Linked DNA regions of Homo sapiens. The protein of the gene in region 7 purifies or fractionates together with the protein of the main gene of each other region. This does not show direct contact. Each region holds a gene or a part of one and is shown on either strand. Other genes may lie near its edges. The genes, in order: ADCY6, ABCB1, ABCD3, ACVR1B, DSG2, TMEM33 and SLC43A1.

Region 1 (3,500 bases), on a different chromosome or scaffold from region 7:
ATGAGGCCTAAAGAACAGGCAAAGGGGTAAAGGGGGCAGGTAGAGGATGGGGCAGGGAGTAAGGGATGGGCACAGAGAAGGAATGGAACCAGGGTGGGCCTAGGTGTGGCCTGAGCCTTAGCCAGCTAGCACAAGATACATTTCTGGCCTGGCCCAGGCTCCGCCCCTAGGTTCCTCCTCTTCCCCCAAAGGCCCACACAGTCACCTGTAGTTTCCAGAGGAAGTCTAGGCGGGCAGTCGACTCCACCTGCTGAGCATGCAGATACAGCGCCAGCGCAAACACCAGCAGAATCACAGGGGTCATATATTTGAGGGCCACCCTCCCTGCAGCTGGACTAAGGATAAGCAGAGACATGCTTGGTGTCTGAAGGAGGCATCTAATGGCTCTACCCTTTGCTGCCTCGGAGCCCTCACTTACCAGTCCAGCCCATCAAAGGTCTCATTGGAAGAAGCCCTGGTAAGAAGATAGAAGAGACAAAGTCATCAGTGCTTCCTGGATTGCTGGGTGGGCACATGGAAGGGGAGACAAGAGACTGCATTTACTGAGCACATACTGTAAGTCAGGCATTGGGCCAGGGCTTTTACTTACATTAATTAACTCATTAAGAGTAGAGGTTAAGAAAACCTCTGCTCTTAGAGACTCCTCTACTTACCAGCTATGTGACCTGAGACAAGTCGCTTAACTCTCTAAGCCTCCTTCCTCATCAGTACAACAGGGATCAGATCTAAATAATGTATGTAAAAGGCTTAGCACAGTGCCTGCCATATAGTCAGCCTTCCATAAATGTTAGTTACTATAATCTTTACAACTACCCTGTGATTTAGGTGACATTGCCATTTTACAGATGAAGAAATTGAGGCTCAGAGAAGCTAACTCACCTGTCTAAAGTCACACAGCTAATGAGCAGCAGAGCAGGGATTCAAACCCAGCAGAGACCAGAGGCTTTTTCTACTACAACAAGCTATGGCCACATATCAAAGGAATGGGGTTTTGCAGAGGAAAAGCCAGTGTGGTGTCCCAGGCAAAGCCCCCAAGCAGGAATCAGAAGCTTTGGTTCCTAACCAGAGCCCTGCCACCAAGCAGCTGTATGTCCTATAGGTGGTTAAGATGGTGGATGTGAAAGCACCATGCAAATGTAAGAGGGAATTTTTTTTTTTAATGTCTAGCCTAAAGACACAAGGATTTCCCAGGACTAGGGTTTCCTTGGGGGTAACTATTTGGGGTCACATGCTGGGAGCTCCTCCATCTCCTCCCTTTCCCCCACAGGGGTGTTGTGGCATTCCAAGGCACAAGGGGCATGGGCACCAGAGAGGCTCACAGTGACCTAGAAAGGTGAGGGAAGCTCCTGGGGTATTAAAGGACCTGAGAATAAACTCACAAGCCATGGACGCCAAGCAGTAGGTCATAGTTGTCAAAGATGGTGGCTGGGGGACCCAGCAGAAGCAGCACCAAATAGATGAGCCCCAAGACAAAGATCATGGCCAACTTCCCGATGCTGCTGATGTGCAGGAAGACAGAGCTGGCCAAGAGACTCAGCAGCATGTTCCCGATGAAGTACTGCGGGGGTGGCAGAGGCAGCGTTGGGTGAAGGCAGAGGCCACAGCACCCTTGGGCAGGGAGAGCCCTGCACTCTCCTGCCTGACCTAACCTTCCCACCACACCCCTCAAACCCCCATATCCTCCACCTTCCATGCCCAGCCCCTACAACACACCAGGGCCCCTGGTTGCTCCTAGTGTGGGAGACTCTGGTGAGTTCCTGGGTCCCCAGCGCCCATCACCAGGCCTGGCACAGAAGGGCCAATGTCTGTGCCAGGACAGCCCCCCCACCGCCTGAGCACTGCTCGAACACCTCAGGAAAGCTGCAGGTGGGCATGGTGCCCTCACACAGGGGAGCATCCAGGCCCAGAGAGTAATTGAGCTGCTGCAGGTGGCAGGCAGTGATGTCAGCAGGTGTTAAATTCAGCATCCGGGCTGCACAGCTCCGTATGGGGGTGTGGTTACAGGTGAACTGCAAAAGTGGAGGGGTATATCAGGGTAACCAAGGAGGGAAAGGGTTGCAAGGTACCTGGTGAAGCCATGTACCCTAACCTGGGCTATGCCCAGGTACCTTATACCCCATGGGCCTTAGTACTCACTCAGGGATGACAAGAGGTTGGGAGAACAAGGAAGGAGAACCGGAGTTAACCTTCCCCTATTCTGGGAGGGGGCTCCCTGAGGGCAGAAAATATGTCCTTTTCTCCGCTGTACTCCCAGTGTCCAGGACAGTGCTTGGCACAGAGCAGAGGTGGGAGAATTCCCACTGGACCCTTACCATGTTGGCAATGGCAGAAGTAAACACAAGCAGGACGGAAAAGATGCCAACTGCGGTGCTATGTGCCCGTGAGCGGACAATGCTGCGGGACAGACGTTGCAGGGCCTTAGGGAACAGCTAGAGGCATCAAGAGACCAAGAGTTGAAGGTTGTATCAGCCAAGGAGGAATGGCAACCAGGGATGGGGCCCAGTGGAAGAGGCATGGCCTTCTCCCTCTCCCCATGTGACCTCCTCCCTGTCTGGAGTCCAGCCTGCCCTCCCCAACAGCCTCAGAAATCCCCTTACGTACAGAACCACAGGAGTACACAGCACAGATCAGCACGGTGATTAGCAGCAGCAGGAAGATGCTGGCATAGATCCCAAGCATCAGGGTGGAGCTGGGGCAGAACAGGGCCAGAAAAATCATTTAATTCTGGAAGATCTGGGCATTCTTGTCCCACCCTCTGGAACAAGCAGGGATGCAGGCTCCAGGGATTGTGGGCTTGTGTGGGTATTTAGGAAGCTTCTGGGAAGTGGTGAAGAGAGAAGCTAAGAGAGGAAAGGCAGGGCTCTCACTGTGGGAAGATGAGAAGCTGGATGAAGCAGATGAAGCAGAAGACCAACAGGGCACAGGCAACGTAGGCTCCGAAGCGGGGATCCACCTTCCGGGAGTACTGAGGGAGAGGAGGCTGAGCTGAGTGCTGGGCCCTCCCTAAGGAAGGCAGGGACAGCAAGGACAGGGCACTACCAGGGGTCTCAACAGGGAGGAGATGCAGTTGGCTCAACTGATGAAATCCTCACCCTGCTCTGTGGTCCCTTCTCCATCCCCCAGAAACACCTGTGCCCTCACCTGTGCTCAGCCTTCCCTGCTGCGACCTGCCCCTCCCCCAGCCCTTGTCCTTCTGCCCTGTATCCCTCAAACCTTCTTCTCAAGATCCTCTCTCTGGAAGGTGAGCAGAAACCGGCGCACATGGTCCTTCCGCAGCTGATCAATGCTGCGGGCATCGATGGCACGGCTCAGGAACTCATCCACCTCATCCTCAGGGTTCAGGGCATCTTGGGTGCCCCGGCTGAGGGCAGGAGACATGGTTTCACCAGTTGCATGGGCATGGCCATGTGAGAAACAATGAAAGGAAAGGTATGGACAGCACCTGAGGGAGGGAGGGAGAGCCAGGGGGGTGGCTCCTGCTCCCACACAACACTCCTAAG
Region 2 (4,233 bases), on a different chromosome or scaffold from region 7:
AAAAAAAAAAAAAAAAAAAAAAAAAGAGGCCGAGCTGTAGCTCACGCCTGTAATCCCTGCACTTTGGGAGGCCGAGGCGGGCGGATCACGAGGTCAGGAGATCAAGACCATCCTGGCTAACACAGTGAAACCCAGTCTCTACGAAAAATACAAAAAATTAGCCGGGCGTGGTGGCGGGAGCCTGTAGTCCCAGCTACCTGGGAGGCTGAGGCAGGAGAATGGTGTGAACCCGGGAGGCGGAGCTTGCAGTGAGCCGAGATCCTGCCACTGCACTCCAGCCTGGGCGACAAAGCAAGACTCCGTCTCAAAAAAGAAAAAAGAAAGAAAAACAAAAGAAAACTTCATTGTATTGTAAGGCCAAGAACAAAATATATCAAGATAAGGAAAATTTGTAGTCAAGAATAGAAAAAAATTATGGCTTTGAAGTATGAGTTATTTAAAGAAAGTGGAAACATCCTCAGACTATGCAGTAAAAAACAAAGTGATTTTCTTCTTCTAAACTTATGCAATAAACTGATAGGTAATATGTGAAAGTCATAGAATGTAGACTAGAGGATACAACAAACCTATTTCCTCTATGTTCATAAGAAGTAAGAAAAGCTCTGATGTGAGTTAGCATTGCTTTACAATTTTGAATTGTGCAGATTGCACGTACTTTTCCTCAGTTTGAAGTAAATAGTGGACAGGAAAAAATATTAAATGTTGGCAGTAAATATGGAAGGAAATTACAACTAATGTAATATGCTAAAACATGCTATGTTTATTTTACTAATTTGAATTAAAATGTAAGAATTTAAAATGCCCTGGAAAAACACGGGCATTGATCTGACGTCTGAAGTTTTAAAATATTACACACTTTGAAATAGCATTTGTACCTTGAAATACCTGTCTCTATATATTTTTTAAAACTTCCTTTTTCTTTCATTCCATTTATCATCAAATAAAGGATGAACAGATGTAACTCAGAAACTGTCAAGCATGCTGAAGAAAGACCACTGCAGAAAAATTTCTCCTAGCCTTTTCAAAGGTGTTAGGAAGCAGAAAGGTGATACAGAATTGGAGAGGTCGGAGTTTTTGTATTAACTGTATTAAATGCGAATCCCGAGAAAATTTCCCTTAACTACGTCCTGTAGTTATATGGATATGAAGACTTATGTGAACTTTGAAAGACGTGTCTACATAAGTTGAAATGTCCCCAATGATTCAGCTGATGCGCGTTTCTCTACTTGCCCTTTCTAGAGAGGTGCAACGGAAGCCAGAACATTCCTCCTGGAAATTCAACCTGTTTCGCAGTTTCTCGAGGAATCAGCATTCAGTCAATCCGGGCCGGGAGCAGTCATCTGTGGTGAGGCTGATTGGCTGGGCAGGAACAGCGCCGGGGCGTGGGCTGAGCACAGCCGCTTCGCTCTCTTTGCCACAGGAAGCCTGAGCTCATTCGAGTAGCGGCTCTTCCAAGCTCAAAGAAGCAGAGGCCGCTGTTCGTTTCCTTTAGGTCTTTCCACTAAAGTCGGAGTATCTTCTTCCAAAATTTCACGTCTTGGTGGCCGTTCCAAGGAGCGCGAGGTAGGGGCACGCAAAGCTGGGAGCTACTATGGGACAGTTCCCAAGTGTCAGGCTTTCAGATTTCCTGAACTTGGTCTTCACGGGAGAAGGGCTTCTTGAGGCGTGGATAGTGTGAAGTCCTCTGGCAAGTCCATGGGGACCAAGTGGGGTTAGATCTAGACTCAGGAGCTCCTGGAGCAGCGCCCAAACCGTAGTGGCACTGGACCATGTTGCCCGGAGCGCGCACAGCCCGCGCGGTGCGGGGACCTGCTCTCTGAGCCCGCGGGCGGTGGGTGGGAGGAAGCATCGTCCGCGGCGACTGGAACCGGGAGGGAGAATCGCACTGGCGGCGGGCAAAGTCCAGAACGCGCTGCCAGACCCCCAACTCTGCCTTCGTGGAGATGCTGGAGACCCCGCGCACAGGAAAGCCCCTGCAGTGCCCATCGCGGCCAGAGCAGCTGGGGCATCAACGGCGGGCGCTCCCTCTTACTGCTCTCTGGCTTCGACGGGGGACTAGAGGTTAGTCTCACCTCCAGCGCGCCTGAGGCTCATGCATTTGGCTAATGAGCTGCGGTTTCTCTTCAGGTCGGAATGGATCTTGAAGGGGACCGCAATGGAGGAGCAAAGAAGAAGAACTTTTTTAAACTGAACAATAAAAGGTAACTAGCTTGTTTCATTTTCATAGTTTACATAGTTGCGAGATTTGAGTAATTTATTTCTAGCCTCCAGCTCTGAAATAAATGACATGTTGTTGTTTTTAATTATTTTTAAGAAACGCAAGCTAGCCTTTGGAATCAATATCCCTGCTTAGAGCAGAAGTTTGTTGGCTGAGTGGAGCACAGCATATGCATTTTCCCTGTCTTTTTTGTTCTTTCTTTTAATGATACATAATATTTTACATATTTATGAAATGGGGTACATGGAAGCGTTTTTTACATGCCCGGAATGTGTAATGATCAAGTCCGGGTATTTGAAGGATACATCACCTTAGGTATATTTCATTTCTATGTGTTGATAACATTTTAAGTCTTCTAGCTACTTTGAAATATACAATATATTGCTAACTGTAGTCACCCTCGTCTGCTATCGAACATTGGAACTTATTTGTCCTATCCAACCGTTCTTAGTCATTCACCAACCTCTTTTCATTTCACCTTTTTACCCTTCCCGGCCTCTTTCCCTTAGTCTTGGTGTGCCTCTTTCTCAGCTTTCCTGCCCCAGACAGGCGGATGCTCATATGTGTTTCTGTCTTATGAACTTCTGCTTTTCAAGTGGTGTTGGTCGCCCACACGTGAGCCATATGCTGCTGGTGATCTGCTCTGTGGTCCAGGCTCTTGCTTCCGGTAAATGGCTATGTAAACATCGCGTTTGTGGCCTGGCTGATGAGACAGAAGGTCAAAAGTACATTTAGGTTGTTAACTGGCAATAAATATCTGTATATAATATTGGTAATGTAATCATATAGGGAAAATAATTATTTAAAGTAAATTTTGATCATGGTGCTCTGCCTTTATAGAATATTTAAAACTTCACTAAATAGATTCATTGTTAGTAGTAAATTGTAAAATAGACTAGTAAGTTTAATAATATTAGAAACTGTAATGTAAATTATAAGATAAATTAGTAAACACATTAATATTATAAGAAACCAAGCTTTTCAGTGTAAGAGAAAAAATACAAATGTGGAAATCAAATACATTTTTAAAAATAATGTTAAGTTTGAATTAGAAATTTCAATATGAATTCATAATCTTTTAATAGTTCATTTTCAGTCCACTGAAAGGGACAGTAACAATGAGCACTGTTAGTACCAGATCTGGGTTTCTAAATACCATTCCTCCCTAAAAGAAATGAACCCCTCAGTAGCTAATTTCAGCCAGGTCTGGGACAGGAAAAATAGAAAGTGAGCCTGGAGTATCTTGTGGTACCTGAAAATAAGGAAGTGGAGTTTAATGGAGTAGTCGAAAGCACACTGAAGCTGTCTGGAAGATGCTTCCAATGGCCAACTCTGGGACAATTTGAGCATCAAAGAACATCGTAACTGTAACTGATTTTGAGATACTGAATGCTACTGCTGAATGCTTAATATTCTGAGAGAAGGGAAACTGAAAGAAAGTGTGAGAGGTAGAGAAAATAAAGCAATGATCTTTAGAGAAAAATTCCAGCTATCATTTTGGAACTTCCATTGTTATAATAGATTCAGGCAAGGATTGTCAATGAACTCTAAACTATCAGAAAAATGTTGTATCTAAGAATTTTCTTCAGAATGTTTACTAATTGGAAGGAGAATATGCTTCTCCAATTAAAGATTTTGCAGTTAGCACCTTAACCGAGTGATCAGACCTGGTATCTCTCACGGTAGAATGGACTGTAGTAAATGACTCATCACTTGGATTTTGAGTAAACAACATCACCTAGCAAATATTAATATATCTGCAAAAACATTTAGTCTGTATACAATTAAACTTGTAGACTGGGGCTGTCCAATGGATATATCATGTGAGCCACATTTGTAATTTAAAATTTTCTAGTAGCAACAGTAAAAAATGAAAATAAAAAGATAAAGTAATTTTGTAAATATATTTTATAGAACTCAATATGTCCAAAAGATTGGATTTTCTACATGTAATCAAAATGATTAATAAGATAGTTTACATTCTCTTTTATGCTAAATCTCCTGTTTGATGTGTA
Region 3 (3,500 bases), on a different chromosome or scaffold from region 7:
AAATAGAAATAAATATTAGTTTTTACTTATAGTTCTATGACTAAAAATTTGGCTTTATTTTTACTGTTACATTTTCATTGTATTATCATCAGTTTACCTCTAGAAGTTCCGAATGTGTACTCTTGAGATGTCGAGGATGAGACAAATCTAAGAAAGGGCGACTGACAACTAGGTAACCAACAACAGTGGCAAGGTCTGAAACCAAACAGGTAAGATTTAAAACAGTAACAGTATTTCACCTTTTCCACAAATCTCATCTCTTTCAAAATATACTTACATTTGGCAATAATACTATCAATGAAGCCCATTGAAAACCGAAACAAAATGAAATTATGTAGGTGTTCCACCTGGCAGAAAACAAAAACAAAAAACCATCTTTTTCTCTGTATAAAAAACTGAATCTACTATAAGGATAAAACAAACTGTATAGTTCATTTATTCAACAAATATTTACTGAGTGCCCGTGATTTCTGTTTATATTCTGTTTATATTGTACATCACACCACCGAGGACAATGCTCTTCACAGAGCGGGTGCCAAACAAACACTTCATGAAACCATTTTTATGCAAACAGCATGGAAATTACATAAACAATTTTAACAATGCTGTTTCTCTTGCATGCAATAGCACAATGCTATTGTAGTCACCATGCTTTTGGATACACATATCCCAAAAGAGGACAACAACGAAAGCAAAAAGAACAGAGATTAACTAGTTTGAGTGAAACACTAGCTGTCCGGATTGGCACTGAATGCTTTGCTTTCAGTGGAGACACATGGTCTGTGCTTTATCTAAGAATTGTATTACACCCAATCTGAACTGAGTGCTAATGTAAATCAGTGCCACACAGCCTCAGTTTTAGCTTTAACATGAGCACGCATTGTCTTAAAACTACAAGTCTAAAACTGCTTTTTTATTCTGGAGTTGTAGTGTTCTCAAACTGTCCATCTACCAGATTATTCAAGGTCCTGCATGATCTGGCACTGAGCTCTATTTTTAAGGTCATATGCTTCTACTTTGCTCCTCCTCACCAAGCTCCAGAAATAACGGTTTCTCAAACATGTACCTTCTTAAGGATTTCCTCTTGCTCTTCTCACTGCCAGGAATACATTCTTCTAAGGTATCTATATTTTGTGACTCCTTCACTTTCATGTGGATTTCTGACTAAATGTCACCTCCTCAAGAAAGATCTTGGCCATTCCAGCTAAAGTAGCTGGGCAATAGCCCCCTTCATATCTATCCCTTTATCCTGCTTCATTTTTGGCCACCGAATTCATTACTACCTGAAATTATACAGAACATCTAGTTGTTTATTTATTGTCTGCTCCACTAAAATGTGGCTTCCTGAGTACAGGGTAGCTTGTTAACAACTTGGTATCTTCTGCAACTAGACAATCTCTGGAACATTTATTCAATGACTACCATGTGTCAGACACTGTGCTCAAGCTGGAGATACAATGAATAGAACAGAGAAGGTCCCTGAATTTATGGAGTTTACATTCTAATGAAAGAGCATAACTAGTAAACAAGATAATTAGAGACTGTAATACAGTCATCCCTCGGTATCCAAAGGGGATGGGATTGGTTCCAGGACCTTCTGGATACCAAAATCCATGGATGCTCAAGTCCCTGATGAAAAATGGCATAGTATTTGCATATACCTGAGTACGACATCCCATACACTTTATTTACTTTTTGAGACAGAGTCTCACTCTGTCGCCAAGGCTGGAGTGCAGTGGTGCCATCTTGGCTCAATGCAACCTCCGCCTCCTGGGTTCCAGTGATTCTCCTGCCTCAGCCTCCCGAGTAGCTGGGATTATAGGCCCCCGCCACAACAACCGGCTAATTTTTGTATTTTTAGTAGAGATGGGGTTTTGCCATGTTGGTCAGGCTGGTCTCGAACTCCTGACCTCAACTGATCTGCCCGCCTCAGCCTCCCAAAGTGCTGGGATTACAGGGGTGAGCCACCGCAACTGGCTCATCCCAAACACTTTAAGTCATCTCTAAATTACTTATAAAACTTAATACAATGTAAATAGCTATTACACTAATGTCTGTATTGTTCAGAGAATAATGACAAGAAAAAAATATGTGTACATAAGTACAGACACAATTTCTTTTTCTGAATATTTTCAATCTGTGTGGTTGAATCCATGGATTTGGAACCCACAGATGCAGAGGGTTGACTGCAAATATATATATACTTTTAAGGAAAGATGATGATTAAAACAAGAAGTAACTGTTGGAGGCCATTTCAAATAGGCTGATCAGAGAAGACAAAGCTTCAATAAGGTGTTAACATTTGGGCTGAAAATCTAAAGGATGAGAATAAGCAAGCCGTGTGGAGAGCAAACTGGTGAACTGCAGGCCCCTGAAAAATTACCTTAAATGCATTCTACCAGTGAGCACTCTAAAAGTTCTGCCATGTTAAATACCGACGAGGCAAAAATCCAATTTCTGAAATAATTTAAAATGACAATTTCTTTAACCTCTTTAACTCATCTAAAATATACATTTAATTTCACAAACTTCAGACTTCCACTAAAATGTAAGCTCCTTAAAGGCAAGATTTTATCCATCATGTCCACCACCATCATCCTTAGCACCTGGAGTGAGCACAGGCAACTAGACGGCATTCAATATCTTTTGAATAAATAATGGAATAAAAGTACTTGAATTCAAATTTTCCAAGTGGCAATTAAATAAAAACTGAAGTAAAGCTTTCACAAGAAACAATGCTTATATTCTTTAAAACAAAAAGCCAGTAAACTCTGACCCATAGTCCAAATCTAGCCTGCTACTTGTTTTTTTAAGTAAAGTTTTATTAGAACATAGCCACACCCACTCATTCATGTATTATATATAGCTACTCTTGAGTAGCGGAGCTGAATAGTTGCAAGACACTGTGTGGTATGAAAAGCCTAAAATATATACATACTATCTTGCCCTTTATGGAAAAAGTTTGCTGACTCTTGCTTTACATAATAATCTTTATTGTATTTTCATGAATGCTTCAGGAACAAATTCTTTCTGTGGGAATCACTAAATAAGGCTCCTAAGCAACCTCTGTAAAAATACACTTAATTTTTTTTTTATGTTTTTGATTATACTTTAAGTTCTAGGGTACATGTGCACAACGTGCAGGTTTGTTACATATGCATGCATTTGCCATGTTGGTGTGCTGCACTCATTAAGTCGTCATTTACATTAGGTATATCTCCTAATGCTATCCCTCCCCCAGGCCCCCACCCCACAACAGGCCCCGGTGTGTGGTGTTCCCCACCCTGGGTCCAGGTGTTCTCATTGTTCAATTCCCACCTATGAGTGAGAACATGCAGTGTTTGGTTTTCCGTCCTTGCAACAGTTTGCTCAGAATGATGGTTGCCAGCTGCATCCATGTCCCCACAAAGGACATGAACTCATAATTTTTATGGCTGCATAGTATTCCATGGTGTATATGTGCCACATTTTCTTTGTCCAGTCTATCACTGATGGACATT
Region 4 (3,500 bases), on a different chromosome or scaffold from region 7:
TTAATACATGTAGTTAGAAGTCCCATTTCCAGACTGCAAACTAAACATATGCATGTTGAGTACCTACCATGGTGATCTAGGGCAGTGGTCCCCAATCTTTTTGACATCAGGGACTGGTTTCGTGGAAGATAATTTTCCCACAGGGGAAGTAGGGGAGATATGATTTTGGGATGAAACTGTTCCACCTCAGATCATCAAGCACATCAGGCCGAGGTGGGTGGATCACCTGAGGTTGGGAGTTCAAGACCAGCCTGGCCAACATGGTGAAACCCCATCTCTACTGAAAATAAAAAATTAGCCGGGCATGGTAGTGGCAGCGCATGCCTGTAATCTCAGCTACTCAGGAGGCTGAGGCAGGAGAATAGCTTGAATCCGGGAGGCGGAGGTTGCAGTCAGCCGAGATCACGCCACTGCACTCCAGCCTGGGGAACAGAGTGAGACTCCTCAAAAAAAAAAAAAAAGAAAAGAAAGATCATCAGGCACATCAAGCATGTTAGATTCTCATAAGGTGCATGCAAGCTAGATGCCTCGCATGCGCGGTTCACCGTAGGTTTCCCACTCCTATGAGAATCTAATGCCGCCGCTGATGTGACAGGAGGCAGAGCTCAGGTACCCGCCTGCCACTTACCTCCTGCTGTGTGGCCTGGTTCCTAACAGGCCGTGGACCAGTACCGGTCTGTGGCCCCAGGGGTTGGGGACCCCTGATCCAAAGGGTCCCTTGACACATATTTATTGAGCACCTGTCATATACTAGGCATTGTTGCAGGTGTTAGGGATACAGTAGTAAACGAAAGGAGACAAAATTGCCTTCTCTCAGAAAGCTTACCTTCTGCCAGGTGAGGTGGACAATAAACAAAAGTATAAAATGTAAAGCAGTTGTGCCTACTACAGTCCACCTTCTGCTCCTCACTTCCCCAAGATTCCCCATGTTTGGTGTACACACACCTGCTTCAGGTATTCAGTCAAATGCTAGTCTTTGTAGATAGAATTAAGGTCTCAATCAGTTGACCTTTAGCCATCTAAAGGAGGTTATCATGGTGGGTCTGTCTTGATTGAACTAGCCCTTTCAAAGCAGAGAGATTTCTCAGCTGATTGCACAAGAGGAAATCAGATGTTCCAGCTGGCTTGGAAGCAAGCAGACGTCCATGTTGTGAACTGCCGATCCCAACAGCCACATGGCAAGGAACTGCAGGCAAACTCTAGGAGCTGAGAGTGGTTCCCAGCTGACAGCTAGGAGGAACATGGGGACCTCAGTCCTTCATCTGCAAGGCAGTGGATCTTGTCAACAACCAGTAAGCTTGGAGGAGGACCCAATCCTAGATGAGAAGGCAGCCCTAACTGGCACTGTCGGTGCTGTGCCTGGACTTCTGACCTGTAGGAACTGTGAAATAGTAACTAGGTGGTGGTTTAAAAAATGTATGCATTGGGTGGGGGTGAGTCAAATGGTGATGGTGAAAATAGGTAAAGCAAGAGAGGGGAATAATGAGAAATACCCCAAGATAGGCATGAGGGTACTTGAGACCTGGTGCCCAGCCATCCCATCACTCACATATAAAAATAAATCCTTTGACCACATGTGGCTTTCATCTGACTATAACTTTTTTCTAGATATTTGTGAGTGGAGGGGAGAGGGGATTGTGGATGCTTTGGAAATAAGTTTTTTAGGTGCTTGGGATGTTTGAGTTGAGGAATCTGGGAATTGAAGTATTTTCTGGGTTTTTTTTTTTTTTGTGGTAGAGGACTCACCTTGCCCCACATCCTTGTATATTGCTTTGGTATATGTTTGCATATTACCTTTTATACCTGTAGAAGATAAGATTGAATTGTAATCAGTCAGTGTTCATTTCTGATATCCAGGATGTGCCTAGCACCAAGCTGAATGCTGAGAGGGATCCTGAGGAAAGAGTCTGTCCTTGCCCTTTGGAAGTTTACACACAGAGACCGGCCACAGTGGCTCATGCCTGTAATCCCAACACTTTGGAGAATGAGGTACAGGGGATCGCTTCAGTCCAGGAGTTTGAGACTAGCCTGGGCAATATAGTGAGACCTCGTCTCTACAAAACATTTTTAAAAATTACAAGGGCTTGGTGGCGTGTGCCTGTGGTCCCAGCTACTTGGGAGGCTGAGGTGGGAGGATAGCTTGAGACCAGGAGATTGAGGCTACAGCAAACCATGATTGCACCACTGCACTCCACCCTGGGTGACAGAGTGAGATCCTGTCTCAAAAAAAAAAGTTTACACACAAATGGACTTTTTTTCTGCTTGTTGGAACTACCACAAACTATGAGGAGTTCAGGTGACAATTGTAATAAAAGCATCTGATTTGCTGAATGTTTACTATATACTAAAGTATTATGCTAAGCACCTGTGTTGTATCATTTACTCTATGTAGTTATTCTTTGAGGGGCTAGGGGCTCTTATTCCCATTTTACAGATGAGAAAACTAGGGCATAGAGAAGTTAAGCAGTGGGTCCAAAGTCTATCCAAGTCCAAAACATGTGCTCTAAATATTGTACTGTGCTATAAACTGTGAGTACTGTAAAAGTGACCTTCTAACCAGGCTCTCTGCCTTCAATCTCCCATTTGTTTTCCATCCTACGGCTAGATCTAACTTTGGAAATGCACCCTGTTTGTCTGACCTAGAGGTTGTGTGGCTTCTAGGATCAACTCTAGACCCCTTAGCTTAGCATTGCAATCAGTTTCATCTGGTCTTAGTCTCCCTGACTCTTCTTGCCTTTGGCTGGAACCTTGGCATTGTTCGAACTGTCAATTTACTCTGAACCCAGTGTAGCTAATATTTTTTCACAGCCCTTTGCTTTCCCTTTTCCTTTTCTCTGGAATGCTTCTCCCCACTTCTCTTCCTAGCCAAACCCAGCGTCCTCCAGTGTGGACCTTCGTCCTCTTGTGTTCTCCCGGTCAGTGATTCCATCCTCTCTGCTTTTCCCCTCAGCCTGTATTGGTAGTTGGAGTTGCACTGTTTATAGTTGTCTTCTCCCACTCTCCATGCCCAAAGAATTGGTGCGGGGAGCTGGCTTATTTGTTATATGGCTTCGGCCTGCACAGAGCCTTGCATGTTTCAAGTACTTAATAAGTTTGTTTAATTGAATTAATTCATTTCTTTTCCATCCTCTCAGTAAAATCCTAGGTAAATAATTCCAATTCTGTTTTGCTCTAATGTTATTATAATCTTGTATATATAGTATTTTAAACCTACTCAAAAAATGCCGCAAACATTTGTGAGTTACTTGGAACATCATAATCTCTCTTTCTACCTCACCTCTTTCATCTCTGTTTATCCTACCACCTACCCATTTTATTCCAGCCAAATGAACTTGATCTCTCAACCTCATTAGTTTTATTCTCAGTTTGGCTGATTTCTTTTTTCCTTTTCCATTGTCCCAGTTGCCTGAAACAATCATTCCTATCCCTCTTCTCACTCAAAACTGTGACATACACGGTCTCCTCTCCATTCGTCCATACTATAATAAATAGGTCAGGAA
Region 5 (3,500 bases), on a different chromosome or scaffold from region 7:
GCTCTCTCAGTGTGCATCTTGATATGAAGACATCATGAAGGAAAGCAGAGCTGACTGACTGGCAAAAACATAACTGTAAGTGAGAAATATGCCTGTGTGAGAACTAAGATCATGGTTACTGCAGCATAATTTAGCTAACACCGACTGATTCTGTGGGTCCCATTTCTCTTTCCTTATTGCCTATAAGTATTCCCTGAAAAAAGAAAAAAAAAAAAAACCCAAAGTCTCATTTGGATCCAAGGCAATGATTACCCTAATAATATCACATTCACATACAAATGTTCCCCCCACCCCCCACCACCAATACATAAAACTCATCCTTACATCAGTGAAATAATTTCTTAAGAATTCTTCGTTCAGTGCAACAGCAGCTGCCTGAGCTCCGGCCATGTCTCTGGAAGCCCCTGTGGCCCTTGCGGTCTTCGTGGTTTCAGTGGTCATGATAGCGCCTGTGGCCCCTGTAAACTGGGTAGCTCTACCAGAAAGCAGGCTTCTGTGTTCTTCCCACCTTCCATCCATCTCGGACATCTCATGTTGCCCTTTGACAATGGAAGCAGAGCTACTTCCTTTCATCGTGGCTTCCTTGGCCATACCTCCTACTCCATTTCTTCCTACTAGACTGCCCCCTTGATCCACTGGCAGAAATGATGGCACCACCTGTGAGAGCAAACACAGCTGAGAACTGAGTCAGGAGGATGGAGGGAATCCTTCATCCTTGGTAGAAGGATCTGAGTCAAGTGGGCATAGGAAGGTATAAGCTATTTCCACTGAGGCCAGTTAGAAAAAGTATTTTGAGTTGAATAACTTATGTAAGTCTTATGAAGATCTCCTTTCTTCTCTCTTCTTGTTTTATAGGTGGATAGAACCCAAAGAGAAAACAAAGCCCAAACAGTCTCAGCTCCTTTACTCTATGCGACCAATGGCATTTCAACCTCCCTCTACAGTTTGATACCTTCTTCTATAGTTACAGAATTCTTAACTTTGTTTTGACCTGGATCCATGGCCACCCAAAATAAAGACTATATTTCTAAGCCTCTGATGCCACTAGGTATAGCCACCTGACTAAACTGTGGTCAATGTGAATGAAGCAGAAATGGTGTACACAAGTTCCGGGAAGTGTGCTTAAAGAGGGTTCTTCACTTTTCTCCCATGTGCTGGTTAGAATGTGGGGACGGCAGCTAGGTAGCTAGAACTAGGACATGAGGACAGTGTGGGAATGGAACTCAACCATGGAAGAAAAACAAGGAAGAGGGAACTGGGGACCATGCTGCGGATGAATCATCATGTTGATCTTGGAATGCCCATTTTAGGATTAAGCCACTGTTATTCTGAGTTCTCTGCCACCTGATGCTAAATCCTATCCTATTAGAAATGGTGCTCATAACAGATGGTGGTGAGAGGTCCAGGGTGAAGGTGCAACAGAGAGACAAAGGGATATGGCTATGATGTAGTTGGGAAATGGGGTTTTGCAACATTTTACAAGTGTCATGGGGGTTGTGGGCTTACCTCTGCAAACCCTATGTATTGAGGGAAATGGAAATGAAGCAGTTCCTGGTTATGAAAACTGCCCATTTAATGTTAGGACAAAAGACTTAGATTCCTACACACTCTTGCTCTTCCTGAACCTTGCTCTACATTCTCTACAACATGGGAAGTGTCAAAACAGAGTAAAACTATCTCAATTCTGCCCCAGCAACAAACACAAAATATGCTGTCATTTGAACTCTTTGCTTAACAAAGGCACATGAGTGAAATCCATAGTGATCACTTTACTCACTCAACCAAACATGTAAGAAACACTTCCCTAGGCCCCTTTAAAACCCAAGAAGAAGACAAGTCATATTGACATCTGATCCACTGACCTTGTCTTCAGGTGGTGCTCCTTCATTATTCCAAGGATGCAGCATCTCTATGGTGCCAGGTATGGGGGTAAAGCCTTTGGCGCCCTTTCCGCAATGGCACATCAGCAGTAAAAGTGGTACCACTGTACAGACACAAAATTGAACACAGATAAGGTTAACCTTGATATATTTCTAAATTTATATTGCACAATTTTGGAATTTGCATGTCCCTTCCTGGACTTGTCTTCACTTATTTACAGCTCTATTTTTCTTTTCTTCACCCTGATCCAACCTTACCAAGCTTGTTTTGGGTGAATTACTCCAAAACCCGAAGGCAGGATGAGGGAGTCTTACAGATTCAAGGCCTTGTTCATCAAAAAGAGGCTGTCTGTGGCTGCTGAGTGGAATACCAAGACTAGGTTCAGATAGTATCCAAATCATCAAAACCAGCTTAAAGATTAATTTTTTTAAAACTATGGTCCAATTAAAAAAAAATCACTGTTGCAAAAATATATGTACTATTGAAAACAGTAATTAGAAATAATAAAGTGAAACATATAACAATTTCAGAGCCCTCTTCTTAGATTTTATTTTACCCCTAGGAGGAAGCAAAGACCAAGGCTGACCCCTTGATCAATGTAGTAAAGAATTAAACACACCTGCATGCCCATCTGCCACTCCCATTTGGCAGCTTCCAATGATGAACTGGCTACTGCCTAGATTCGTTTTTATGTCAAACAGTCAACAGCACATTAACTACAGCTACTACGATTAATAAGAAGACTGAAATCAGCCAGTGGCAATTCAACAATTTTAACAAACATTCATCAAGTGTCTATTATGTGCCAAGTACCACATTAGGCTCCAGGGAATCTGAGATGAGAAAGCAGTGCAAGGAATCCCTGAGCAAAAGATACAGTCCCAGCTCCAGTACCTACCTACAAACTTGGTAAGCTGAGACAAGTCATTTACCGTTATGTATCTGTATATGTAGCCATAGCATGGAGATGATGGTATAAAAGTACACTGCAGACTGTTGAGTGCTGTGCTTTCAATTGCACATCTACCAATGGCTCTAATACAGCAGTCCCCAACCTTTTTGACACCAGGGACTGGTTTCATGGAAGACAGTTTTTCCACAGGGAAGTTAGGGGTAGGGGGGTTGGTTTTGGGATGACTCAAGTGCATTACATTTATTGTGTACTTTATTTCTATTATTATTACATTGTAATATATAATGAAATAATTATACAACTCACCATAATGTAGAATCAGTGGGAGCCCTGAACTTATTTTTCTGCAACTAGATGGTCCCATCTGGGGGTGATGGGAGACAGTGACAGGTCATCAGGCATTAGATTCTCATAAGGAGCACGCAACCTGGATCTCTTGGCATGAGTAGTTCACGATAGAGTTTGAGCTCCTATAAGAATCGAATGCCAGCACTGGTCTAACAGGAGGTAGAGCTCAGGTGGTAACACGAGTGATGGGGAGTGGCTGTAAATACAGATGAAGCTTCACTCACTCTTCCACCACTCACCTCCTGCTGTGCGGCCTGGTTCCTAACAGGCCATGGACAGGTGCTGGTCTGTAGCCTGGGGGTTGGGGACCCCTTGTCTAACAGACCTCTCCTCTGTCACTGCACTAGCCTAGGCTGCC
Region 6 (3,500 bases), on a different chromosome or scaffold from region 7:
CATTAAGCATATACATGAAACATGTAATTGCCTTAGAGTTTTCACCTAATGATCTAAAAAAACAAATGGAGGAAGATTAAAATATTTTGAGTAGACATAAAAACCACACAGTCTTGATGCTTAAAAACATGATTTGCAGGCATAGCTTACAGTATTTTTCTTTTTAAATTTAGCAATTCATGATGACCAATAAACTGGACACGGCAATGTGGCTTTCTCGCTTGTTCACAGTTTACTGCTCTGCTCTGTTTGTTCTGCCTCTTCTTGGGTATGTATTATACATATTGCTGCCTTTGATATTCAATTGTTGAGTCAGTTTATATGGAGTGCCTTTTAGGTGTAAGACTTATTAACCTGTAAAGGGTTTAGGGACAAATAAAATACAAGTTCCAGCCTTCAGGTACTAACAACCTAATAACATTATCAGAGGAATATTTTATATCTTGTGCTTTGTGAAACTAACACATTGAAAATCCAAGGAAAAATTGATGTGTGGGAATGAGATAAGTTCATGTTTTTTTCATTTTTACTTATTACTTGACAGGAAGGTCCTGCTTTATAAAATTCAATTTTATAAATTGATTATAAGAAATTCAGTTGGGCATATATATGAAGTGAAGCTATTAAAACGGTAGAATAAGTTCATGTAATTTTTTTCTATTGACAAGTGATTTAGGTGTTGTGCAATTATGATGCAATTCACAAAGGAGGAAGAGACACTGCAGTTGTTTATGTCTCATGATAACCTCTCCTCTGGTAATTTGCAGGTTGCATGAAGCAGCAAGCTTTTACCAACGTGCTTTGCTGGCAAATGCTCTTACCAGTGCTCTGAGGCTGCATCAAAGATTACCACACTTCCAGTTAAGCAGAGCATTCCTGGCCCAGGCTTTGTTAGAGGACAGCTGCCACTACCTGTTGTATTCACTCATCTTTGTAAATTCCTATCCAGTTACAAGTATCCTTTTCTACCTTGTTAACAATGAAATTGCCAACTAAGCATATAGGAGATCTCTTCTGATTATTTCAGCAATGAAGGCATTCCATGAAGCCTGGGTTTGTTCTCGGCACTTCATTTGAATGAAGATATGTTTAGTGTAAGAATTTCTGACTTTAAAATGTGAAATCTAAACTTTGAAGAGCTGATTTAGGAATTTTAAACTATCTTTGTTCTTGCCTCTTGTAAGCTTCCCTATTAGAATGGATATTTTCAAATTCCCCTTCGAAGCACAACCTTACGCAGAACTTACTTTAATATTTACATTTTTTTCATTTAATTCACGTTTTTGGCAAAGTGTCCAGATGTCTTGCTTTAAAAAAGAGAGGTCCTCAGCTCTTTCCATCTTAACCCCAGTGAACTAGATACAAATGGAATTTAACCAAGAAACAACTTATTTAAGCAGGTAATGAGATAATCAATACAAAGAAATTAATATTTGCTGTGTATAGAGTAGAAAATAAGGACACACATGGATAATCCGTGAAGCTAATGAGAAATAATTCATTTGGAATTTGTATGTTTTCACATTTCAAAGGTGTGTTGTGGGATGATACTGGGTAGTCCATAAAGGAGGGGAAAAATGGGGAAGAGGTTCTATAGTGAACACTAGGTTAAACTTTCTTTTTTTTTTTTTTTTTTTTTTTTGAGACAGAGTCTTGCTCTGTTGCCCAGGCCACCTGCCTCTGCCTCCCAAAGTGCTGGGATTATAGGCGTGAGCCATCACGCCCAGCCAGGTCAAACATTTTTAAATAGGGTTCTTTACTATAGTGGCTTTGGTATTCTAACGTGTGTTGTGAAACTAAGAGAGTTAGTAGGGTTTTTTAAACTTAAATTTGTGGTTGTTTTTTTTCCTGTAGATTATCTCTGCAAATCATTTTGTGCATTGAGAAGTGCTGGTCTAAGAGCTTTTGAATATTTATGATACATCTGTATGTTATGTAAAGCACAATAAAATATTCCTCTGAGACTGAATATTACCTATTTAGATACCTATGCTCATGAAGTATCAAATTTTTAAATAGATTTTTATAAGTCTTAAGGAAAAGAAATAGGAGGAAACCGAAATTTCCTGAGCACCTATTTTGCCAGTATAAGAACTTGAATTTAGGCCAGGCGCGGTGGCTCACGTGCGGTGGCACTTTGGGAGGCTGAGGTGGGCGGATCATGAGGTCAGGAGATTGAGACCATCCTGGCTAATATGGCGAAACCCCATCTCTACTAAAAATACAAAAAATTAGCTGGGCATGGTGGCATGTGCCTGTAGTCCCAGCTGCTCGGGAGGCTGAGGCAGGAGAATCGTTTGAACCCTGGAGTGGAGGTTGCAGTGAACTGAGATTGTGCCACTGCACTCTAGCCTGGGCGACAGAGCGAGACTCCTTCTCAAAAAAAAAAAAAAAAAAAAAAAGAACTTGACATTTAATCTTTGTAGCACTCTGAAAAAAATTGTTGTGGTATATTTTTAATAAAGATGCTGATTTGCTGATTGTCAGTATTCACTTCCCACACATTGGCTAGTAAGTAGTAATGCTGAAAAAGTCTTTCTAACTTAAAAGCTCTACCTTATCTACAGTTAGTGGGTGAGTAATACTTAAGTATACATTAAAAATATTTCTTTCTGTATGTGGGTAAACCTGGTAATTTCATTTAAATATTCAGTATATGGAGATTCCCTTTAAATTACTCACTTCACTGAGATAATGTGGGTAGTTTGAAATGTAAGGATAAAATTTTTCCTGTTTCAATGCATGAGTCTGTAATGTCCCATCATAATTTGTATTGGTTTATTTTTAGGTAAAACTCATTAAATGATTACTATACTACAACTGTAAATGATAATCACATTTGTTTGGCATATTATTGGCTTGACCAGCCTCTGTTGATTGAAGTGCTTTGCAGTCACCAATGTTAAAATTCTAGCCTTTCTGAGCTATAACGGGAAGTTATGTAGAGATTTTTGGTCATGCCTTTTAGTAGCTTAAAATTTCTTTGGAGGGAGAAATAGAAATGACAGAAAATGTGTTTCAATGTAGGGTAAACTGAATACGTCAATAACTTTGGGAACAGTGCCTCACACAGATCAGGCACTCAGTAAGTTTTGTTGAGTGAATCCTGAGGTCTTGCCAAATGAGACTCATGACTGGTGAAGAAAACCTTTCTGCCTTTTTATACAGTTGGTTATTTGGTAGCCCCTCTTTCCTGGGAATGTTGAAGATTAAGGATTTCATATTCCTTAAATTCTTACAAAGGGAATGTAGTAAACAGTGGGAATAACATAAACTAGTAATTGGCAGCAAATGCTAATCTGATTATTAAAGTGATATGGTAATAAATAAAAGCGGGCCCAAAGTAATATTACAGATTTGCGTTCTGATCCTTCTTCTTATAAAAGTGATATTTTGTCCTTGCTTGATTAATAACAGATAGGGCATTTCACCTCTTATCTTTTCTAAATACATTGTATTAATAGTTTAAGAGTAATGTTGAAGACTAAGATTATGAATCT
Region 7 (3,500 bases):
AGGTGAGGGTGGAAATAAGGGAGGGAACTGAGCCAGGGCAGACAGTCTCCAGAGGAGGTGGCTCTGACGCAGAGCAGGGTCAGAACCCACACCAGGAGAGAATTTAATTGATCATGTGTTCCACTCACCTGCCTCAGCCAAGCCCTCAGGGCAGGGGAAGGCAAAGTCAGGATGCCCTTCGCACACACCCTCCTCTGGCCCCACCATCCTCCCCAAGTCACTAGATCCCACAGCTGAGAAGGACCTTAGGATCCGTACAAAGCCTAAACACACTCCACAGAGGGGGAAACTGAGACTCTGAAGGGAGGCCTCAACAGCTCTGGTAAAAAAGGCGTTTAGGCCGGGCGCAGTGGCTCACACCTGTAATCCCAGCACTTTGGGAGGCCGAGGCGGGTGGATTGCCTGAGCTCAGGAGTTCGCGACCAGCCTGAGCAACACGGTGAAACCCCGTCTCCACTAAAATACGAAAAAATTAGCCGGGCGTGGAGGCGTGCACCTGTAGTCCCAGCTACTCGGGAGGCTGAGGCAGGAGAATTGCTTGAACCTAGGAGGCAGAGGTTGCAGTGAGCCGAGATCGCGCCACTGCACTCCAGCCTGGGCGACACTGCGAGACTCCGTCTCAACAAAAAAAAAAAAAATGGTGTTTAAACACATATAACTAAATTATCCTTCCCCCTTCCCCTGAAGTGGCTGGCTCAGGAAAAACCTCTACCCACTCAGGCAGAGGTTTTCCTGCACCCTGCATCCGTGAGGCACCACTGCCAAGGACGCCACGGAAGGCTGCCAGGCCTGGAGAGGGGCAGGGCCCCCTCCCCTCCAAGGGGCCACAAACGCTGTCTGCGCCCAGTACCGTGGGTAAGGCGAGGCCGGCCGGCTAACCCCGGGCTGGCGGCCTTGCAGCGTGCGTGGCAACAGCAGCTGGGCCCGCAAGACTCAGCACGGGACGTCCTCGTCCAAGTCTGGGCCAAGAGCAGCGGCCCAGGGGGCGGGGCCGGCCAGAGGGAGCGGGGAGAGGCTGAGGGGCGGTGCCAGCGCCGGACCCTGCCATTGGCTGGAGATTACAGGAGGCGGGGACATAGCAGGGAGGAGCCGCTGGACAAGCCCCACCCGGCCGCCAGGGAGGGTCTGAGGTCAAGCGCCGGAGAGAAGGGATTTAGGGCCCTGGGCCAAGTTGCACAGCAGGGAGAAGGGGCTGCGCAGAGGGGCGGGGAGAAAGGGATCCGCTTCCTTCCTTTAGAGCTGTGAAATGTCCCCGGTTGGAATTAAAGGCGGCTGCTGGGGAGAGGTGAAATTCAGCCAAAACCACCCAGTCAGGCAGCCCTTCTCAGAGATAAACAGTCCGAGCCAGCCCGGCCAGGAACCTTCCCCTCCAACCTCCCTAAGCCTTTAACACTCCTAAGCCTTTAACGCGTTTACACACTCACATAAATAAACACACTTTGAGCAACACACATACACCACTCACCACATGTAATAGGTCAAGCCATGTGCACGACGAGGTGTCGACAATTTCATATGGTTCAACCTAGTACACTCACAAACACACCTACCAACTCATGGCTTTCACAGGGACGGGGTCACACACCCACTCTCCCACGACATGGCAAGCGTGCACACGCTATCTCAAGCTGCTCCCTCCCCCTCAAGATCATGTTACCCAGTTTTATTTTCTTCCCAGCACCTATGACGACTGACATAATTTATTAGTTTACTTGTTTATTGGGTTATCTGTGCCCCTCACCCCCAAAATGTAACCTCCAGCAGGGAGGATGACTCGGTCAGTCCTGATTGTGCTGTAGTCCAGGACCTAGAACAGAGCTCCATGGACATTCATGGGCTCTGTACACACAAACACACACATTAACATACACCCCGACACACAGCCTCATCCACACACACACAGCCTCACACCTGCTCTTTGCAGCCACCTGCACAGTTTCTCACACACTCACTTGATCTAGTGATCTGCGTCCACAGGCCCCTCCCCCAGCCCATTCATACTGCCCTCACCCCACTCACTCTGCCCTCACCCCACTCGGGGGAACTCTGCTGCCAGGCCAGGCCTGTGACACTCACCGTGAGTGAAGTGAACGTTAGGCAGATGCCACCAAAGCCATTCAGGGACAGCGCCAGGAATATCAACGGAGACAGAGCTGGAAAGGGGAAAGCAGCAGATGAGGGCATTTGGGGAGCTGTGGGAAGCCAAGGGCGGGAGCTGGGGTAAACATCCGCCTTCATCCCACCTATTCTTTTCTTGTGGGGCCACAAGAGGACAGACAACTCACCTTCCACGTCCCGGGAGGCCAGGGCCATGAGGGTGCAGGACGCAGTGAAGCAGGCACTGTGGAGACACAGGGAAGGGCGAGGGGTTGGCCTGTGAGCACCCCCCCTCCCCTCCCCCTGCAGCACGGTCCCTGTCCTCCCGTTCCCCATAGCCCAGCCACCTCACCTGCCAACCAGCCGCACGGGTCGGGGGCCAAAGCGGTCCATGAGGATCCCCAGTGGCAGGGTGGTGGCGCTGAGCACGAAGGAACCAATGGTGAAGCCCAGGTTGAGCATCTCGTCCTGCTGGTCACAGCCTGGCCACCTGCGCTGCTCATCCTGGGTGGTGTTGGTGCTGCTCTCAGCTGAGGAGGGGGAAGGGAGGGCTCAGCACATGACACCAGGAACAGCTGGGCACAGGAGACAGCAGCCCACAGTCAGGCGGCCTGCTTTCAAATCCCATGCCAAGTGCCTTTGGGGGTACCCTAGAGTCACATCTCCTCTGATGGGGCTGCTCCAGAAATGGCAGCCATTAGTACCTGACCCTGGGAGAGTCTTGTGCACACACAGCCTGAGGCTTCAACTAGCTCAAATGAAATACTGGACATAAAAGTATTTACTAAGTTGTAATATGCACTCAGTGTCCAAGCTTAGGGGGTTGTGGACCCCCAACAAGAAGTGCCCCCATATCTAGAGGCAAAGGCAAAGGCAGTGAGTGGTACTCTAATGGCTATAACAAGAATTCATTAAAATGGCCCGGCGTGGTAGTTCATGCCTGTAATCCCACCACTGTGGGAGGCTGAGACAGGCAGATCGCTTAAGCCTACAAGTTTGAGACCAGCCTGGGCAACATGGTAAAACCCCATCTCTAAATAAAAAAAAGAAATTTAGAAAGAACACTAAAACTTAGAGGAAGCTTTCCCGATAAATGATAGTCTGATAAAATAATAGCTAATACTTATTGAGCACTTAACTATGCTCCAGGCACTGTTCTAAACACAACAGCCCCATAAGTCAGTTAATAAAGTATCCCGTTCCCTAGGTGATGAAGCTGAGGCACAGAATGAGAACCAGGCACTGCCCTCCAGTCCCCTCTAGAAGTCCACTTGGAGGACTTGTCCTTAACGGTAAACTGCCAACTTGGAGTTGTGACAAGTTAAGGAGAAAAGCTAGTGATAGGAGACAAAGGGCTGCTTCGCTTTACTCAATGCTCAGTGAGTCATGAGGTGGCTGCCCCC

Evidence for each region.
Region 1: the proteins of SLC43A1 (region 7) and ADCY6 purify together in Homo sapiens (affinity purification with mass spectrometry; one large-scale study listed by BioGRID and IntAct). This does not show direct contact.
Region 2: the proteins of SLC43A1 (region 7) and ABCB1 purify together in Homo sapiens (affinity purification with mass spectrometry; one large-scale study listed by BioGRID and IntAct). This does not show direct contact.
Region 3: the proteins of SLC43A1 (region 7) and ABCD3 purify together in Homo sapiens (affinity purification with mass spectrometry; one large-scale study listed by BioGRID and IntAct). This does not show direct contact.
Region 4: the proteins of SLC43A1 (region 7) and ACVR1B purify together in Homo sapiens (affinity purification with mass spectrometry; one large-scale study listed by BioGRID and IntAct). This does not show direct contact.
Region 5: the proteins of SLC43A1 (region 7) and DSG2 purify together in Homo sapiens (affinity purification with mass spectrometry; one large-scale study listed by BioGRID and IntAct). This does not show direct contact.
Region 6: the proteins of SLC43A1 (region 7) and TMEM33 purify together in Homo sapiens (affinity purification with mass spectrometry; one large-scale study listed by BioGRID and IntAct). This does not show direct contact.

Annotation. Positions count from the first base shown.
Region 1 is NC_000012.12:48,772,090-48,775,589, forward strand, and holds part of ADCY6 (adenylate cyclase type 6), read right to left. Parts: intron 3,362-3,500; coding exon 3,214-3,361; intron 2,966-3,213; coding exon 2,868-2,965; intron 2,690-2,867; coding exon 2,602-2,689; intron 2,430-2,601; coding exon 2,313-2,429; intron 2,010-2,312; coding exon 1,851-2,009; intron 1,559-1,850; coding exon 1,380-1,558; intron 455-1,379; coding exon 419-454; intron 336-418; coding exon 206-335; intron 1-205. UniProt on the Homo sapiens protein: Catalyzes the formation of the signaling molecule cAMP downstream of G protein-coupled receptors. Functions in signaling cascades downstream of beta-adrenergic receptors in the heart and in vascular smooth muscle cells.
Region 2 is NC_000007.14:87,598,085-87,602,317, reverse strand, and holds the start of ABCB1 (ATP-dependent translocase ABCB1), read left to right. Parts: upstream 1-1,433; 5' UTR 1,434-1,492; coding exon of another isoform or gene 1,493-1,563; intron 1,564-2,127; coding exon of another isoform or gene 2,128-2,133; coding exon 2,134-2,201; intron 2,202-4,233. UniProt on the Homo sapiens protein: Translocates drugs and phospholipids across the membrane. Catalyzes the flop of phospholipids from the cytoplasmic to the exoplasmic leaflet of the apical membrane.
Region 3 is NC_000001.11:94,484,389-94,487,888, reverse strand, and holds part of ABCD3 (ATP-binding cassette sub-family D member 3), read right to left. Parts: intron 348-3,500; coding exon 278-347; intron 196-277; coding exon 98-195; intron 1-97. UniProt on the Homo sapiens protein: Broad substrate specificity ATP-dependent transporter of the ATP-binding cassette (ABC) family that catalyzes the transport of long-chain fatty acids (LCFA)-CoA, dicarboxylic acids-CoA, long-branched-chain fatty acids-CoA and bile acids from the cytosol to the peroxisome lumen for beta-oxydation.
Region 4 is NC_000012.12:51,958,199-51,961,698, forward strand, and holds part of ACVR1B (activin receptor type-1B isoform a precursor), read left to right. Parts: intron 1-1,061; exon of another isoform or gene 1,062-1,292; intron 1,293-1,857; exon of another isoform or gene 1,858-1,989; intron 1,990-3,500. UniProt on the Homo sapiens protein: Transmembrane serine/threonine kinase activin type-1 receptor forming an activin receptor complex with activin receptor type-2 (ACVR2A or ACVR2B).
Region 5 is NC_000018.10:31,539,677-31,543,176, reverse strand, and holds part of DSG2 (desmoglein-2 preproprotein), read right to left. Parts: intron 1,985-3,500; coding exon 1,863-1,984; intron 1,032-1,862; exon of another isoform or gene 856-1,031; intron 658-855; coding exon 325-657; intron 76-324; exon of another isoform or gene 1-75.
Region 6 is NC_000004.12:41,938,429-41,941,928, forward strand, and holds part of TMEM33 (transmembrane protein 33), read left to right. Parts: intron 1-173; coding exon 174-268; intron 269-767; coding exon 768-955; intron 956-3,500. UniProt on the Homo sapiens protein: Acts as a regulator of the tubular endoplasmic reticulum (ER) network by modulating intracellular calcium homeostasis. Mechanistically, stimulates PKD2 calcium-dependent activity. Suppresses the RTN3/4-induced formation of the ER tubules.
Region 7 is NC_000011.10:57,498,703-57,502,202, forward strand, and holds part of SLC43A1 (large neutral amino acids transporter small subunit 3), read right to left. Parts: intron 2,673-3,500; exon of another isoform or gene 2,628-2,672; coding exon 2,450-2,627; intron 2,342-2,449; coding exon 2,286-2,341; intron 2,154-2,285; coding exon 2,077-2,153; intron 1-2,076. UniProt on the Homo sapiens protein: Uniport that mediates the transport of neutral amino acids such as L-leucine, L-isoleucine, L-valine, and L-phenylalanine. The transport activity is sodium ions-independent, electroneutral and mediated by a facilitated diffusion.